2 separate regions of the Homo sapiens genome follow, and region 1 is linked to region 2. Evidence: fine-mapped expression QTL. Tissue or cell type: sun-exposed skin. Region 2 holds a variant in brackets; the other region holds the start of a gene. All regions are shown on one strand. Distances are between the middles of the regions.

Region 1 (8,108 bases), 62 kb after region 2:
TGACTTCCCCTAGAGCTGACTGACGAAGCCTGAGAAAGCCAGGCCTGACGAAATTCCAGGGGGCCCATTTTAAGCTAAACCCGGGAGAACAGCACTCAGTAGGAACTTAGTTACAGTTACATCTTACATACTCACCACCTGCCCAGCTTCCATTTAGGAAAAAGGAGTTCACAGCTTTAAAAGCGTTTTGAGAACAACTGCCTTAGAATGTTCATCTGCTGAGCAGAAGCGTGTATTTCTTAAATTCCAGACTGTGGCATCTTCAGAGGGGATAAAGGACAGTCCTTTCAGCTGAGTTCGTGAGTCCCGTTCTTCATGTTCTGGGTCCCAGTGCCAGAGAGTTCTGCAGTGCTGACAACCTGCACTCATACAGTAAATATTGTTCTTGTTTTCTGAACCTTTGGACAGTTGGGGGTGAAGGGAAACTTAAGAGGACTCTGTCCCCAGCCAATTGTTTGGATCATGAAATAAAGGAAGCCTGGGAGCTGAAGTAGAAGTCAGTATTGAATCTCCTGGGCCAGAGGCCACCAGGGTCAGTTCTGCACCATCCTCTGTGTGACCGTGGGCCGATCACACATCTTTTGACCTCAGATTTCCCTTGTGTGAGTTGCTCCATCCGTCTAATATCTCACTTCATTTATATCTGTTGTCAACTCTAGGCACCAGAATTTCAAACTGAGCTTAATCCTGTCCTATATTAAGATGGATTGGAACATGTCCATGAAAGCTGAAAAAATTTACTAAAAATGTAACCACTTTGAGTCATAGCTTATTGAAAATGAATTAAGTTCATTAGCTTCTAGTCATTGGAACAAAGCATTCTTTTCAGTTAAAGAGGGTTAGTCAAGAAAGACCTACCAAAATTTTTCACTGTGCACAATAGCATCAAGGGAGTTCAACTGCAGACCTTAGGGGGTTGGTTTTGTTTTGTTTTTCAGTATCTCACATGATTTAATTACCTTGTCCTGAGTTATATAACTCATTCCTCTTTGTGCTTTGATTTTTCCATCTAGGAATGTAGAAAAGCTTGCTACCTTCAAATGCAGACATATTGTGATAATTGTTGAGCATAATTTAAATACTCTGAATGTCTTAAATGAAAACTATGGAAGTTGAAAATATGAAGAAGCCAAAAGGAGTATTTGACAAATATTACCTCATTAAATCTCAACACCTTCATAAAATAGATGAAGATACAATCCCAATATTAATGAATGGAGACTTTAAGTAACTTAAGAAAACCATACAGCAAGTCTGCACTATGCATTCATTTATACATATGTATGTATAATTGCTTTTGGGTGCCAAAAGATGTTTAAGATAAGTTAAGAAAATTTACAAAAGTAGAAAATAAAAGGTTTGCATTCATCTAAATGCAGATTATGTATAGCACAAATCAAAGTTGTATTCATCTGACATTTTAAGGAAACATTCAGGCTTTCTCTTCTACAAAATGAAAGTTAATTTAAAATTAAATTTGAAAGATAATTTATGGTACTTATTCATTTATTATTTCTTTACAACATAAACAGTTGCACTTTAAGTTGAATTTTGTGCATGTAACCAACTATTGCAAATGTAAATACACATTATCTTTCTTCTGGATAATTGTGAATTTGTACAATATAAGCTATTAAGAGCACATTGTACCTTCAAAGCCATATCAAAATAAACAGTCCATTTTTAATGGTTACTACAAAGGCTCTTCCTAGGCAGTTTCTTTTCATCTTCTTTGTGACATTATCACTGACTGTATTTAGTGAGCCCTTTTGTTAACATCACCACCTCAGCTTGCTCTGCAGTCTAGACTGCAGCTCATGTTCCCAGGAATTTGGAGAAAAGAACTTTGCAACTCTTTCCCTTTATCTCCAAATATAAGTTTCCCTTGCCTGCTCTTAGGGAACTTGTGGGCCAATGAGTAGCAAGCGCTTAGGGAAAAGGGTACTTCTGCATAGGAGAGGACAGGCCATATTGAAAGATGACCCCAGATATTCTTTTATTATTATTATTATTATTATGTTAGACAGAGTTTCACTCTGTCACCCAGGCTGGAGTGCAGTGTCATGATCTCAGCTCACTGTAACCTCCAAGTGATTCTTGTACCTCAGCCTCCTGAGTAGCTGAGATTACAGGCATGTGCCACTATGCTCAGCTAATTTTTTTATTTTTCTGTATTTTTAGTAGAGATAGGGTTTCCGCTCTGTTGGCCAGGCTTGTCTTGAACTCCTGGCCTCAAGTGATCTGCCCACCTTGGCCTCCCAAAGTGCTGAGATTACAGGCATGAGCCACCACGCCCGGCCTCATTCTTGACGAGAAGTGTGAAAGCAAGAGAAGAGATCAGGACATGGAAGATGGAGGGCTTCTCCACTCCTGAAGAGGGCCGCTTCATGCCTCGATGTTAGGGGTCACAGGTTCGATTCCCCAAGATCAGACAAACCCACAAGGCAAACGTCAGTATTAGGACCATTCCCAAGAGAAAGGCAGATGTCTTTTGTATCATTTAGTGTATTGGATTTTGCATGAAATTTCTATATGCTGCTTGGGAATGTAATATCTGATTAAGAATACACAGCTGAGGAAAGTAGTAGGAAAGAGAAGATTTTTTGTGTTTGTTGTCATTTCATATTACAATTACTTTCTATTCCTTGCAGCACAAACTAAATGAGCAGGAAGAGGCAGCAAAAAGCGTACAATGTATTTGTGGGAATTGTAAATGTGGAAGTGAAGACCAGCCTCTGATTTATCAAAGATCATTAAATGAATTAAAACTTTTCCAAATTTCACCTTCAGAAGGTCATCATAGCAAACAAACCTCAGTTTGCAAGGCCAGTTTTAAAGAAGGCAGAACCCAGCAAAGCAAGCGTTTCAGGCTCTGAATAACGCTCAAATTCATCACAAACGTGCTGGGAATTTAAAAAGGAAGTTTGTGTTCTCATTGATTACATAACTAATAATTTTATGAAGCCTGTTTAAAATACTGATTTTTAAAACAGTGGTTATAATGTCAACTGGTTACACAGTGTCCATTTGTGACAATAAATGAAAAAGTGTAAGCAAGCGTGTGCTTGTGTGTGTTTACAAATGAGACTATCTTTGCCAGTGGACCGTTCCAATATGAAAAACATCCATACATTGTATTATGTAAACACAATCAAGGGGACCCATCATACCAGTGGTGGATGTGTAACCTGTATTTTCTTGGCACATAAGGTTCCACCAAGACTTCGATCTTCACAACATTACAGCTCCGAGCTGTCCCACGTCCCACCAGACCCTGTCCCCTTCTCTCCACTCATCCAGCGCGCCCACATGCGCGCGCGCGCATACACACACACACACACACACACACACACACACACACACACACACACGGGACTCAAGAGACAGTACACTCGGGAGATGAGTACAGCTTGCTTCTCTGCGGTCACCCGAGCACTGCAGGCTCACTTTACCTCTCGCCCAGGGAGGATGCCGGCTGCCGCTGCCCTCCGTCTCCACGGCTGTCCCCTTCTGGTTCAGCAGACTGGGGCCCTCGGTGTTTTCAACAGGTACCATGGTCACGTAGAAGTTACAGCCGCTTCCCCGCCACCAAACCGCCCCGACCACCCCCGCTCCCAGGAGTGGTCACTTTCCCCATAATAGCATGCTAAAGAAGAGTGTGGGGAAAAACTTCGGGCAAAGCTAATGTGATTTGTGACCAACTTTGTTTCTATTTCCGAAGGCTTTGCCCTTTTCGGTGACACAGGCTGTTGCTATTCCAAGCAGCCTATCACAGGCAGGGGGAGGGCCGTGAGTCAGAGGATTGTTTTTGCCTTTAGATGCAGAGTTGGAAGCAAGGGGTTAAAAGAAAGGGAACTCAGACGGAGTGTTTGGCCATTAGCTAAGGGTAGCTCTTGTATTCTAGCACCTTTGAAAAGAGGCAGAGAAAGGAAACATGCAGATTTAAATGCAAGCTGAGAGTGGGGATAGAATACTCACAGATGGTATCAGTTAATCTTGCAGAAAGAGGAACAATTTATGCAAAGACATACCAGAAGGAAAAGTGTGTCAATTTTTCAGCAAGACTGTTATTCCAAAAGTCATGGTATTTACCAGCTTACACAAAGCATAAAATACCTTTATTGTTTCAACCTGATTTTGGTCTAGGTAAAGGCCTATATCTTTCTCTCCAAGGCCTTTCAGATAAATCACAGCCTGAGACCAAAAATACACAAACTCAGAATGCACAGATTCTTTAGACTTTTTATATGCTGAGGTTATAGCAAAGTAATCCATTTCTTAATGCAGAATTGTCTTTAAGAGACAAATTAACACTGAATCCTCTGTTAGGTTTCATGTTTGCGTAGGTAGGAGGAGGATACTCCTCACTCAGAGAGGCCAGACTAAGTGGCCCATTGTGTGCGTGTGGTGGACATGTAATCTCAAACAAAATCAGGTCATGAGAGAGGATCTTTTTCTGATTTGTGAACATATTTATAAAAAAGTCTTACAGGGTTATGACATTTTACCTTCAGTTATTCATTCAACAAATCATGTTTATTAAAAAAAAAAGCCTTATAGAGGAAATTGAGATCATCTTAAAAATCATTTGGAATAAAAACTAACATGTGTGGAGCACTTATGTGCCAGAAATTGTGCTAAGCGCAATAACGCAGATGATGACTTTGAGGCAGGTACCAACATTATAGAAGAGGAAATGGAGGTTGGGTAACTTGGCTACAGTCTCACAGCTAATCAGTGGTAGAGCTGAGATTATGAATCCAGGAGGTCTAAAGCTGTAACTCTCCTATATTCTAACTTCCCAGCCTTGTCCTTCTCTAATTTTCTTGGCTTCCTATGGTTTCAGACCTACTCGACTTTAAGAAGATGCCGTGAAATATGGCTTTTAGTCATAGGCATTTCTCTGGACAGAAAAACAAATTTGTGCTTGTATAAGCAGAAGCTAAATTTTTGTTACTTCTTTTCAACATTTTAACTGAATCACTTCAAAGTTCTAAATTCACTTATTTGTACATTTCCTTTGCTTGTCATTAAATAATTCTATATTTTTCTTATCTTTCAGGGAAACAGGTAGCAAATGGAAACAAACCTATAATAATTCAACTAGTCTTTATTATGTACCCGTTGTATGTCTGCTGATAGTGCTAGAAAATGGAAGTCCTCCAGGCATAATCCAGGCCCCTTATGATTAAGAGGGTGAGAAGTTCAGAATCCCACACATCAGTGTCCCCACTAAAGAATGTGTAACGCAACCATGGTTTGAAACAACTCATTTTATTTGTTCCCAGGGTGCATTATAATTATATAGGAGTCCCAGTTTCTATCTGTGAGACACATATGTTTCCCATAAGTTCTCTATATTCTCTTGGCTTCTAACTTCTTTCTGCTCAGAACCAATGACCTCATTAGGGGGAAAATGTTCTTGCAATGGGTTAGTTGTATCATTGCTTTGTTTCGTGATCCCACAACCTGTGTTTCTAGCAGCTTCTTGGCCCCATGGGAGTGTTAGAGTGTTTGCTATAGTGCTTGACTAGACAGAAGACAAAACTAATTCCAGAATACTTTACTATGGTTAAAAGCAGTTCAACAGTTCTCACTCTGTTTTGTGTAGCCAAACCATACAGGAGATCCACAGGCATAGTAAGCCAACCAGGAGTCAAAAAGAATGCTCAGCAATGCAACTGACAACATCACCTCCTGGTGCTCCTAATTCTGTTCTTTATTCTGCTGGTGACCTGACCGGGGCCACTGGCTATCTCAAGCTCTGTTTGTACTTACCTCAATCTCTTAACTCAGAGAAAAGTTTAGGGGAGAAAATTTTTTTCACCCAGACTAGAGGGGGGAAACTCTGCCTCAATTCTGTTACGAACCCTGTACTTCTCCTTCCCAGCCTTTTGCACACCATAATGTATTTAATACAGTTAAATGCGGTGATTCAATTAAATCTGCCTTTTCTGCTAGATTGCAAACTCTATGAGAGTATGGACTATGTTTGTTTAGTTTATTATAGTATTCTGCGTGTCTGGCACTCAGCAAATACTCAGTAAGTATTTGCTGGCTGACAGACTGATCCCTGTAAATCCAATAAACTTTAGCAACACTAGAATGTATGCTCCAAGAGGGCAGGCACCTATTTCTATCTTGCACATTCGTCCAGCTCCTAACACAATGCCAGGCATGCAGTAGACACTTAATAAATATTTGTTAGATAAATGAGTGCTCACAAATAGAGCTTTTAGTGACTAAATAACTATTTAGTTTTTAAATATTAAAATCCATATGATGATTGCCTATGACATTTTGTCCTTCCTCTCTGTTTCTGCCAATTCCTTTAGACCAAGTATAACCACAGGCTATCCATCTTCCCTGGAGTTTGAGCCACTTCCATTATTAAAATCTGTTCCTCCACTCAAGGAATTCATAATCAGCAGACAGCAGACAGTTCATTCTTCATAACCCCAATAATTTTGCTACATACCACTTTGGACCACTGCTCATAGGCAATGCTACCAAATCCAAAAACACCTATCCTGACTTATAAACTGGCACAGCGGGGAAGAGGGGATGAAAGACAAGCAGCTTCACAGGGCTCGTAAACATCTACCATAGAGCATGCCTATTTTCATGGCAATTTTTTAAAAGCTTCACAAAAACCTTGTGAAGTAAATACCGTTACTTCCATTTTGCAGAAACTGAAACCGAGAAGTTTATGAAACATTTCTAAGATCAAAACATTTTCCAATGTTGAATTATAAAAATTTGAATCCCACAGGAAAACCTACACTCGACATTTTACCATGCTTGCTCATTCACATCTATATATAACAATTCTTCCATCCATCAGTCGATCCGTATTAGTTTTTATACATATCAAAGTAAGTTGAAATACTTCAGAATGCATATTATTAAATAGAGTTCAATACTAGGTTCTTTTTTTCAAGACAAAAAAGCTCCAGAAGCAACCAATTTTCTGATATTTTTCCACATAGATTACCTTTGCTTGTTCTAAACCTTAATTCATATAATGGAACCACAGAGAATGCAGCCTTGTGTAAGGAGTCTTTCACTGAGCATAGTTTTGATATCCATCCATGTTTTTATGTATATTAGTAGTTCATTTTGTTTATTGCTGAATAGTGTTATATGGGTGAATACACCACAGTTTATCCATTTTCCTATTGATGGACATCTGGGCTGTTTCCAATTCTTTGCTATTACACATAAAACTGTTATGAGCACTCTTGCACAAGTCTTTTTATGCAGAACATAACATTTCAGAGCACAGCAGTTCAAGTCCATTTGATTCCAAAACCCAAATGCTTTTCACTACACCGTATTGTTTCCCTGCAGTGCACCCTGCAGTGCACATTGATGTGGAATGCACCTTCTACAATGGTTCATTACAGTGTAAACACAAATGGGAAAATATGGTCTTTATGCAAACAAAAAAATTCCAAATACAAATTCACTTCTTGTTTAGCCTAATTGCAATAAAATATTCATCTTGGTATGATTGTTTGGAAGGATGTTTATTATTTCACTGTTTATACTATCTAAATAACTTCTCTATCTGAAAGTTTTCATTATGACTTCTTTCCTTAGGTGTAGAATATTATCACTCATAACATGTTGATTAAAGTTCCTCAAATTACAAAGTAAGTGTGGTTAAATTTATTATGGTATGTTCACTTGCTATAACATGTGATAAATCATTAAAAGAAAGACAATGTAGCAATGCAAGAAAATGTTTTTCCAATTATTTTAAGTGGGAGAATCAAAGTGGCATACAGAAAGTTGCATACTCATTACTATTACAATACTTTCTTAAAATATATGCGCCTATTGGTAGAGACTGGAAGGAAACTTGGAACAACTGAAAATAACTAATAGGTTGAGGTGGTAAATCATGTGTAAAAAGTACTGTCTTAAAAGTTGTTTGCTTAATGCTTCTATCAGATTGTATATATAATAAATATAAATTTGAAGAAAACTTCTTCATACTTAGGGCTGCCATATACCATTGTGCAATTTGGACACAGTACAACTCTAAGTGGGTCATTCTCATTTGCAGACAGCAGAAGTTTGCTTATTTATAAAGCAAATCTTCC
Region 2 (8,108 bases):
AGCTAATGTGTTTTATTTGTGAATAGTCTTTTACATTTTTGTATGCTGAATATGGGCACCAAAGAACCTGTAAAAGTTATCTTTTTCAATTGAATGTGCACAAATAAAAGTTTGGAAAAGATCTCTCTTCATTCTATAACTTTTATTCCCCATTTTCTATTTTAACAAAAATTGTATTCATACTTCTTTTTTTTAAAATCTATGCAAGCTTAAGACTTTGGCTAAAGTGTGTTGGCTTCTTTTTGAAGTGTATTTTGTGTGTGTGTGTGTGTGTGTGTGTATATATATATATATATATGCACCACATGTGTATAGTATCTTTTAATGCTCTGTTACCAAATAACAAATAGGAATTTTTTTTCTTGCAGATTAGAAATAAAAACGTGTATATAAACTCTAGGGAACCAGACTAGAAGTTTATAGATAAAGGATAATGTTTTATGTTGCTAATTTAATATGATAGAAAATGTTAAATAACTTGTAAAGGTTAAGAAATTGTAGTTTTAAGAAGAGAAACCTCTTACCCACTAGATGGAAATGAGAAAGAAGCTGTGATGAATGGTGCCTCATTTGGACCTTTGTTTTTCTGGAAAGACTCAACACCTGTAGTTGTAGAGAAGTGATTGAGGTTCTTGACTTTAATCTTGGGTTGATGCCCAAGCCTATACTAAGAGTCTTGTCAGAAGTTGGTAACATGGAGATGTTTTAACAAGAAGTGCCCATAAGCTGCCTCTGTGCCACAGTGTAATTATCAAATAGCCCCACTTGAATTTGAAAGCCATTTTGTGTGATACTGTCCTTCCCCTTGCTGTATCTTATTTAATGGAGTTAAAGAGTGACTATTCAGTATATGAGATTGCTACTCTTAAAGTTATAATAAATATGCATTTATGAAACAGTGTCTCTGGCTCACCCAGGAGCCCTGATGTGGTAATACAGGATCAAGCTGTAGTTGTGCCCTGTCATTTAGGTTTAGGAGTTTAGTGTAACCAACAGTGATTATACCTAGAAATAAAGCTGAGTGGAGAGTCCAATTAGCTTCTCAGGAGAAACTTAATGGGGACAATATTCCAACACAATGTTCCACAAAAACTTGTATTTCCAAAATGTTTTTAAACCTTTGTGGAAAAATTGCAACATCCTAATCTCCATATATAGTACATTTTCCTTACTGTATTATAAAATCTTGAAAACCTAGCTTAGGCACTGCACTGAACAACACATATTATTTTTATCTTTTTTCTTCTCAATGCCTTCCCTAACCTCCTGCTTATTCCAAAGTGGAAAGCAAAGGCTAACTTACATTTTTCCTTCTTGTGAAATATTTCATTGAGATTTTTAGACTTGTATTTTTCCTTTTTTTTAAAAAAAAAGTGTTTATTTCCTTTATTTTAAGATTCAGTAGGATAGCCAAATTCATAGAGAATAAAATTACATGAAAGAGTTACAAGCTCACTGTTTTAAAGACTTGACATTTTTCATTTAGTTTTAATTAACAGTAATAAGTCACCTCCTGTTTTTCAATGTTCACCAAAAAAAGAAACATAGAATAGGGGGAAAACATGCTTATATAGCCAAGGTACAGATCCAGATGATGTAACCTTTTTAGTATTCGCATGACTTGAAAACTGGGCAGATCAATAGATAATCGAAGTGCTTTATCTGAAGGGAGAGGGTAAAGACAGTGTGACCAGGTTTGTTTTCAGGGCTGCCGAATGAGCCTCACCTAACAGTGTCCATGGGTAATTCGCTAACCTTAACAAAGATGGGAAGAAGTGAGTGCTCTGATGTCTTCTGCTGGCTCTCCATAAGTACTGTAAATTTTTTTTATAAATAAAAACTGTGAATATATATGTACAAGTTGTAAGTATTTCCCCCTTTTTATTTTTGAAAATCAAGAAGCTTGATTTGGTGTGGTGCAATGGATATTGGATAAAAATTTGAAGACAAAATTGTTTAGTTACAGACTCAGGATAATAAAAGAAAAATATAAAAGAATGCTCAAGATACTGAAGTCAAGGTCACTAGTAATAAACTGGCTAGGTTGATAAACAATTTCCTGCCCATTTATAATGAAGGGCTAAACAAAAAATACCTGAAGTATATATAGAGTTTGAACTATAAACACGGAAGGAAACATGGGGCAGAACACACTTCCCTTCTCTTTCCAAAAACAAAAAACAATGCATGCTCTGATTTGCGTATGAAATACACCATGATAGAATTGAGATCTCCAATCTCCTTTCCTTTTAGCTTCCCCCTGCCAATTTTTATACAGATAATACACTGCAGATCCAGGCCTTTTAGTCAGTCTCCTGAGTCTCTGATATAGTTTTACTACTTACATAGGTTTATAGTCTCTCCACATTGTTATAAAGGAATGTAATAGATCATGTTTCCTTATATGACATTGGGACAGTTTGTTAGGAACCAATAGGAAAATTCCAAGCTAAATAAAAAGGAGCTTTGGCTCTTAGGATTCTCTTTTCTTCAGGTTAATCATATTTTAAAATTCTTTTTCAAGTTAGGTTGTTCGTGCTTTTAAGTTTTTTGTGTGTCTTCCATCACTTAAATATTAGTAATTTAATATGTTATTTGGTTCAAGATTTGATTGTGGATTTTCTATCATACCCAAATTTTATTAGTAAGACCTCTTAACAAGTCTTTAAAATCAACTGGAGAAGTAAGAGAACAGTTCATCGTTGTGTGGGTGAAACCCACGTTGCTGGTACAGGTGGCCATCATAGAAAAGAACATGAGGGAATTGTCCTGATGTCTGAATGTCATTTATTGTGTCTTCAGTTATCTGAACATCATCATCAATTATAGCCTGTGTACCGTAACCTGAGGTAGTGATATTCCTGAGGAGTGTGAAGAATTGGACACTGTGGATTACTATACATTGTCATGAAAGCCTTACAAGGAGGCAGCTTTTCTAGGCTTGACTTAATAACTTCAACCTAATTGCTTAGAGATTTGGATAAATAACCTAATGGCCTGACTCCTTTTCTAATGTTTTACTAACAGCTACTTCTAAATAAATATGGTCCCAGGATTTTAAAATTGTCTTTTCTATGCATTTTTTAAAAATGGAAAAAAATGCTCATTTTTCTCAACTATTG[T/C]GGAATTATTTTAATATTTCACAATATTAACATGAAATTCATAAAAGGATATTTTGCATTAAATTATAGTTTATAGTTCATAAAATAAGCTCTATAATCTTTATACTTGTTGAATGTAACTAGGAATTACCACTAAAATCCTAGCCAGGACCCTCTCCTAATCTAGATAGAATATATGGGCAGTTGTCCACACTGTGTGTTCTGGTTCTTTTTTGCGTAAGATCCAGTGCAAGTAGTGTCTTGGTAGGCAGAAACTGTACCCTCATGTCCAGACCACTTGTGTGTCTGCATAATAAAGCTGCGACTGGCCTCCATACATACATAGCTTAAGGCGGAGGTTGATGTCTTCACTAGGACATAGTCTATTCAAAGGCTGCTCTGTGAAGAAGGTAGAAAGTATTAAACCAGCCAGTAACTTTTTTTTTTTAACCTGATATCCTGCTCAGAAAAAGAGATCACTTAGGACCTTGTACCTCATCTACCTTTTGAGGTTCCTTCTGGGGAGGAGGGGGATTAAAGGCTGTCTTTATCATTTCAGAGTGTCTCTTCAAAACCAGTTCCATGACACTGAAAAGAGAGCACAGGAGTCGCAACTATGCATTGGTCCAAAGACACCCTCCTAAGTGTTCTGGCACTATCCACGTTCAGAAGGTGTTGAGGCCATTAGGTCTCTGGAGAAAGCTGCCTGGATTGGCCCCTACCACACAGCTTGTTACACTCCAAGAGCTGCTCCTGGGGTTTTCTTTTTTGAGGCTGTTTTGGCACTAATTCTTCTTGGTGATGACTCATAAAACAAATGTTGTTTTTCACATAGTTCCTGAAAGAGAAAGAGGCACTAATGAAAATGTCATTCTTAGTTTACATGAAAAAAATGTGTAGGCTATTATTTTTTAAACCACCCTGGGGCTTTAATGTTTTAGCTATGCAAAAATAAATACACATTTTTATTAGGAATCCTGCTGCATCATGAAATTCAGTATGCCACAGACTTTGGTCAATCTCATGCAAGGGGTAACGGTGTCTTCTCAGAATACAATCCCAGCAGTCAGCTCTGTGGGGAAGGATTCCAAGGATAGTATTACATACAGAGAACCAGTGGAGGTTTCATCCCAGACCTTATTTTTTTCCATTTCTCAAACTCCAGCAATGTGCCTATATTTATATCTCTTCTATCTTCTACGTTATCCCTTACTCCTGCATTAACAAATTTTTCTACAGGATTCTTCCCATCAGCATAAAAAGATGCTATTGTATTTTACCTTTACTAAAAATGAAGAGCTGCCTTTGAACCTCCCTTTTCAAATACCTTTTTCTGTAATTTAACCAATGATTTGAGTGGCCACAATATGTAGGTAGTATGGGTTGAGTAGATAAAGACTTCTGTTTTCAAGGAGCTTACTTAGATTTTAGAGGGGAGACGAGCTTATAACTTGAAGTAGTAAAAGTGCAAATGAGAAATAAACGGGGAAGGAGAAAAAAGGGTTTAGTTGGGTGGGAGAGGACAGACTGTATTATACAGGTGGCATCTCTCTAAAGCAGTGACAATGATCAGAAAATGGAATGAAGTTAGGGAGGGAACTCCTGCAGAGAATCCCAGAGACCTGAGAAGTTGGGGCAGGGAAACGGTTGGTATCTGGAGGGAAATCTGAGGAAGGTATTTTTTCAGGATGGGAAATACTGCAGCTTTGTGCGTGTGTGCGTGATGATAATCCCATAGGAGGGGGAAATTGATGCAGTCAGTGTACAAATGGAAGCATTGGCCTTTGCAACAAGGCAGTGTGTGTGGGCATAGATGTAGGTAGGTTAGAAGATCTTGTGGCAGGAGGACAAGGTGGTCTCAATTTATTTTCTCAGTGAACTAAAAAGCAAAATAATTAGAGTGAAGAAGTGGGAGGGGGTCCTGGAGGCTTGGGAAAAGTATTGGTGTGAAGTAATCATCTTCGAAAGTAGGAACGTCAACTCACCAGGGAAATGTGGTATATTGCAGGGTATTCCTCAAGATCTACTTGAGATGTATGTTCATAAGGTGAAAACAAGGCTTATCAGCATAGTTGTGTGTTTGATTCAGCCAGGTTTAGCTCCTTGAATGCAGGGTTAAAATAAACTAAGAGTTGACTTGGTCAGAGTTAAGGTTTGCCTGAGTGATGGAGGGAGAGAGAAGAGAGTAAAGGGAGAAGGGGAAATGCGAAGAAGTGGCCTTGGTGGGCCATGGAAAGTAGGAAGCAGGGTAAGGAAGGAAGGGAGAGCATGGGCCTCCAGGTCGTCGTGGGGCTGAAGACTTGTTGAAGTGCCAGTACTTGAGGAAGTGGGCTGGAGAGATGAGTGGTTAGAGGGTGAGTGGAATGCTTGTGAATGAAGCAGTGATTGGAAATGAGTCTAGGGCATGACCATCCTGCTTTTCTGTTCCCCTTCACAGCAAAATTGATGTAAGGAGTGGACTGTTGCTTCTTCACTTCACTTCCATTTTGTCCTCCAACCACATCAGTCAGCTTCTGTCCTCTCATTCCGCTGAGCCTGTGCTTACATCTGTCTTTGTGCTTGGCCTCTCCAGTCCCACCTTCCTACAACACTTCTGGCTTTCCTCCAGCCTCACTGTTGGCTTCTTTTCAGTCCCTTTTAACACTCTCTTCTTTGCTCGGTCTCTAAGTTTGGCACAAAACTGGGCCTAGTCCCTTCTCTCTCTGTTCTCTGACCAGATAAGCTTATCTGGCTTCAGGACTTAAATACCACTTATAAGCTGATGGCCACCCACATTTGACTCTAACCCCTAGAGTCTCCAAATTTCAGACTTACGTATCCAACTGCCTACTACTAATGTGTCTATTTGATGTCTAATGGACATCTCACAATATCTCCAAATCCGAGCTCTATTCTGTCCTGAGCCCTGAAACCTAGTCCTCTCTCAGGCTTCTGCATCTCACCATCTGTCCAGTTTCTCAGCTAAAACTTGCAGTGTCATCCTGACTACTTCATTACCTTATTCTTGTATCCATTTCATTCATGTTTTTTCATCTATTCAATGCCGAGCTTCGATTATATGCCAAGGAATTGTTCCAAGTGTTGGGAAACAACAGTGAACAAAATTCCCTGGCTTCATGGAATTTAAATATAGCAGGAAGAGATAGACAGTAGACCAAGTAAAATGTAGTGTTTCTGCTTTGGTTAAAACTGAAGGATTGGAAAGTGGGTGCAGAGTTGGCTACACAATTGGGATTTGAAATAGAGGGACAGGAAAAGTCTGTTGGAGGTGAAGCAGCAAGACAGGTGGATATCTAGGATAAGAGAATTCGAGGCAGAGAAAACAAGTGCCACGATCTGGAGCCTTGAGCATGCTTGATGTGTCTGGGATGCAGCCTCTGGCCTGTGTGGCTGTGAGAGAAGAAGGGGAGATTAGCAGGCTGTGCAGGGCTGGAAGGGCATTGGAAGGCTTCTGCTCTTGCTGGAGAGCCACTGGAGGATTGGAGCAAAAGAATACCTTGATTGCATTTTAAGGGGTCATTCTGGCCACTGTGTAGAGAACTGATGGGAGGGGACAAAGGCAGAAATGGGGACCAGTAAGTGGGTATTGCAGTAATTCAGGATGGAGATCATGGTGACTCAGACCAGGGCAGCCGTGAAGGTGTTCAGGCTCTGGATATATTTTGAAGTAAGAGCCAACACAACTTCCTGATAGACTGAATGTGGAGTATGTGAGAAAGAGGAAAGACTCCAAAGTTTGTGGCCAAAGTAGTCGGATAACATTGACATCAACTGAGGTGGGTAAGGCAGTGAGTAGAATAGGTTTGAGAACATCACAGGTTCAATTTAGGGCATGTGAGGTATTAGGTATCTGTTAGACATTTGGAAAGACATGTAGAGTAAGCAGTTGAATAAACAAGCCTTGAATTCTAGAGAGATAGCTAGAGACATAAATTTCAGACCCTGGCATATCAATGAGATAAAAACTGTAAAACTGGCTGGACGCGGTGGCTCACGCCTGTAATCCCAGCACTTTAGGAGGCCGAGGTGGGTGGATCACGAGGTCAGGAGATCGAGACCATCCTGGCTAACATGGTGAAACCCCGTCTCTACTAAAAATACAAAAAAATTAGCCAGGCGTGGTGGCGGGCACCTGTAGTCCCAGCTACTCGGGAGGCTGAGGCAGGAGAATGGCGTGAACCTGGGAGGCAGAGCTTGCATTGAGCCGAGATGGCACTCCAACCTGGGCGACAGAGCGAGACTCCATCTCAAACAAACAAACAAAAAAGAAACTAACATTGACTGAGATCAACTGGCTGGTGAGGGTGATAGAGAAGTGGTCAGGGGACTAAGCCCCAGGGCACACCAACTTTAAGAGAGGAAGCAGAGGAATAGAGACCATAGGTAAGAGATAACCAGGGGACGGGTCGCAGAAGGATGTGAGGCAAGCATTTCAGGAAGGACTATCCCCAGCCAAGAGCACTATCTCCAGTCAAATGCTGGGGATAATCTAAGATGAGGAGTGAGAATTGACCACAGAGTTAACCAACATGGAGGTAATTGGGATGTTAAAAAGTAATTTCAGGAGCGGAGTGGCCATAACAGTCTCACTGGAGCAGCTTCGTGAGAATGGGAAGAGCAGAAGCACAAGTGATGACAGCGAATATAGACAACGCTTTAGAAAAACTTGGCTATACATAGTACCCAAGAAATAGGGCAAAAGCTGGAGAGAAAAGTGGCACAAAAAGACCTTTTGTTTTGTTTTGTTTTTAAAAAGATGGAGAAAGAATCATAGCAGGTTTCTGTGCTGATGAGGAGTAGGTAAAGATGCAGATGATGCAGCAGTGAGCTGGGAGAATTGCTGGAGAATGTGCCGGAGAAGGGAGAGAGGAGAGAGGGGGTGAAGGGGGCTCTCATAGGAAGGACTGCATTCCTACATAGGCCCTGGAGGAATGGTTGTGTATGTGGAAGGGGTGGAAGTTTCCCCCTGATTATGTCCATTTTCTCAGTGAAGTCAGAAGCAAGGCC

The links. PIP is the estimated chance that this variant, and not a neighbour inherited with it, causes the effect.
Region 1: SLC2A12 starts here. The variant in region 2 is fine-mapped to the expression of SLC2A12 in sun-exposed skin (GTEx, PIP 0.94). The same link has a PIP of 0.9 or more in aorta.

What each region holds. Positions count from the first base shown.
Region 1 is chr6:134,048,926-134,057,033 of GRCh38, forward strand. SLC2A12 (solute carrier family 2 member 12) reads right to left here and starts at 3,699. Exons shown (of 5, transcript NM_145176.3): 1 at 3,453-3,699. The coding sequence starts at 3,555.
Region 2 is chr6:133,987,370-133,995,477 of GRCh38, forward strand. It overlaps TBPL1 (TATA-box binding protein like 1), which reads left to right. Exons shown (of 7, transcript NM_004865.4): 7 at 1-3,063. SLC2A12 (solute carrier family 2 member 12) reads right to left here. Exons shown (of 5, transcript NM_145176.3): 5 at 212-3,939. The coding sequence ends at 3,786. Among named protein-coding and RNA genes, the nearest start is that of TBPL1, 38 kb to the left of the region's middle. The variant T/C (reference allele first, on the strand shown) is at 3,123.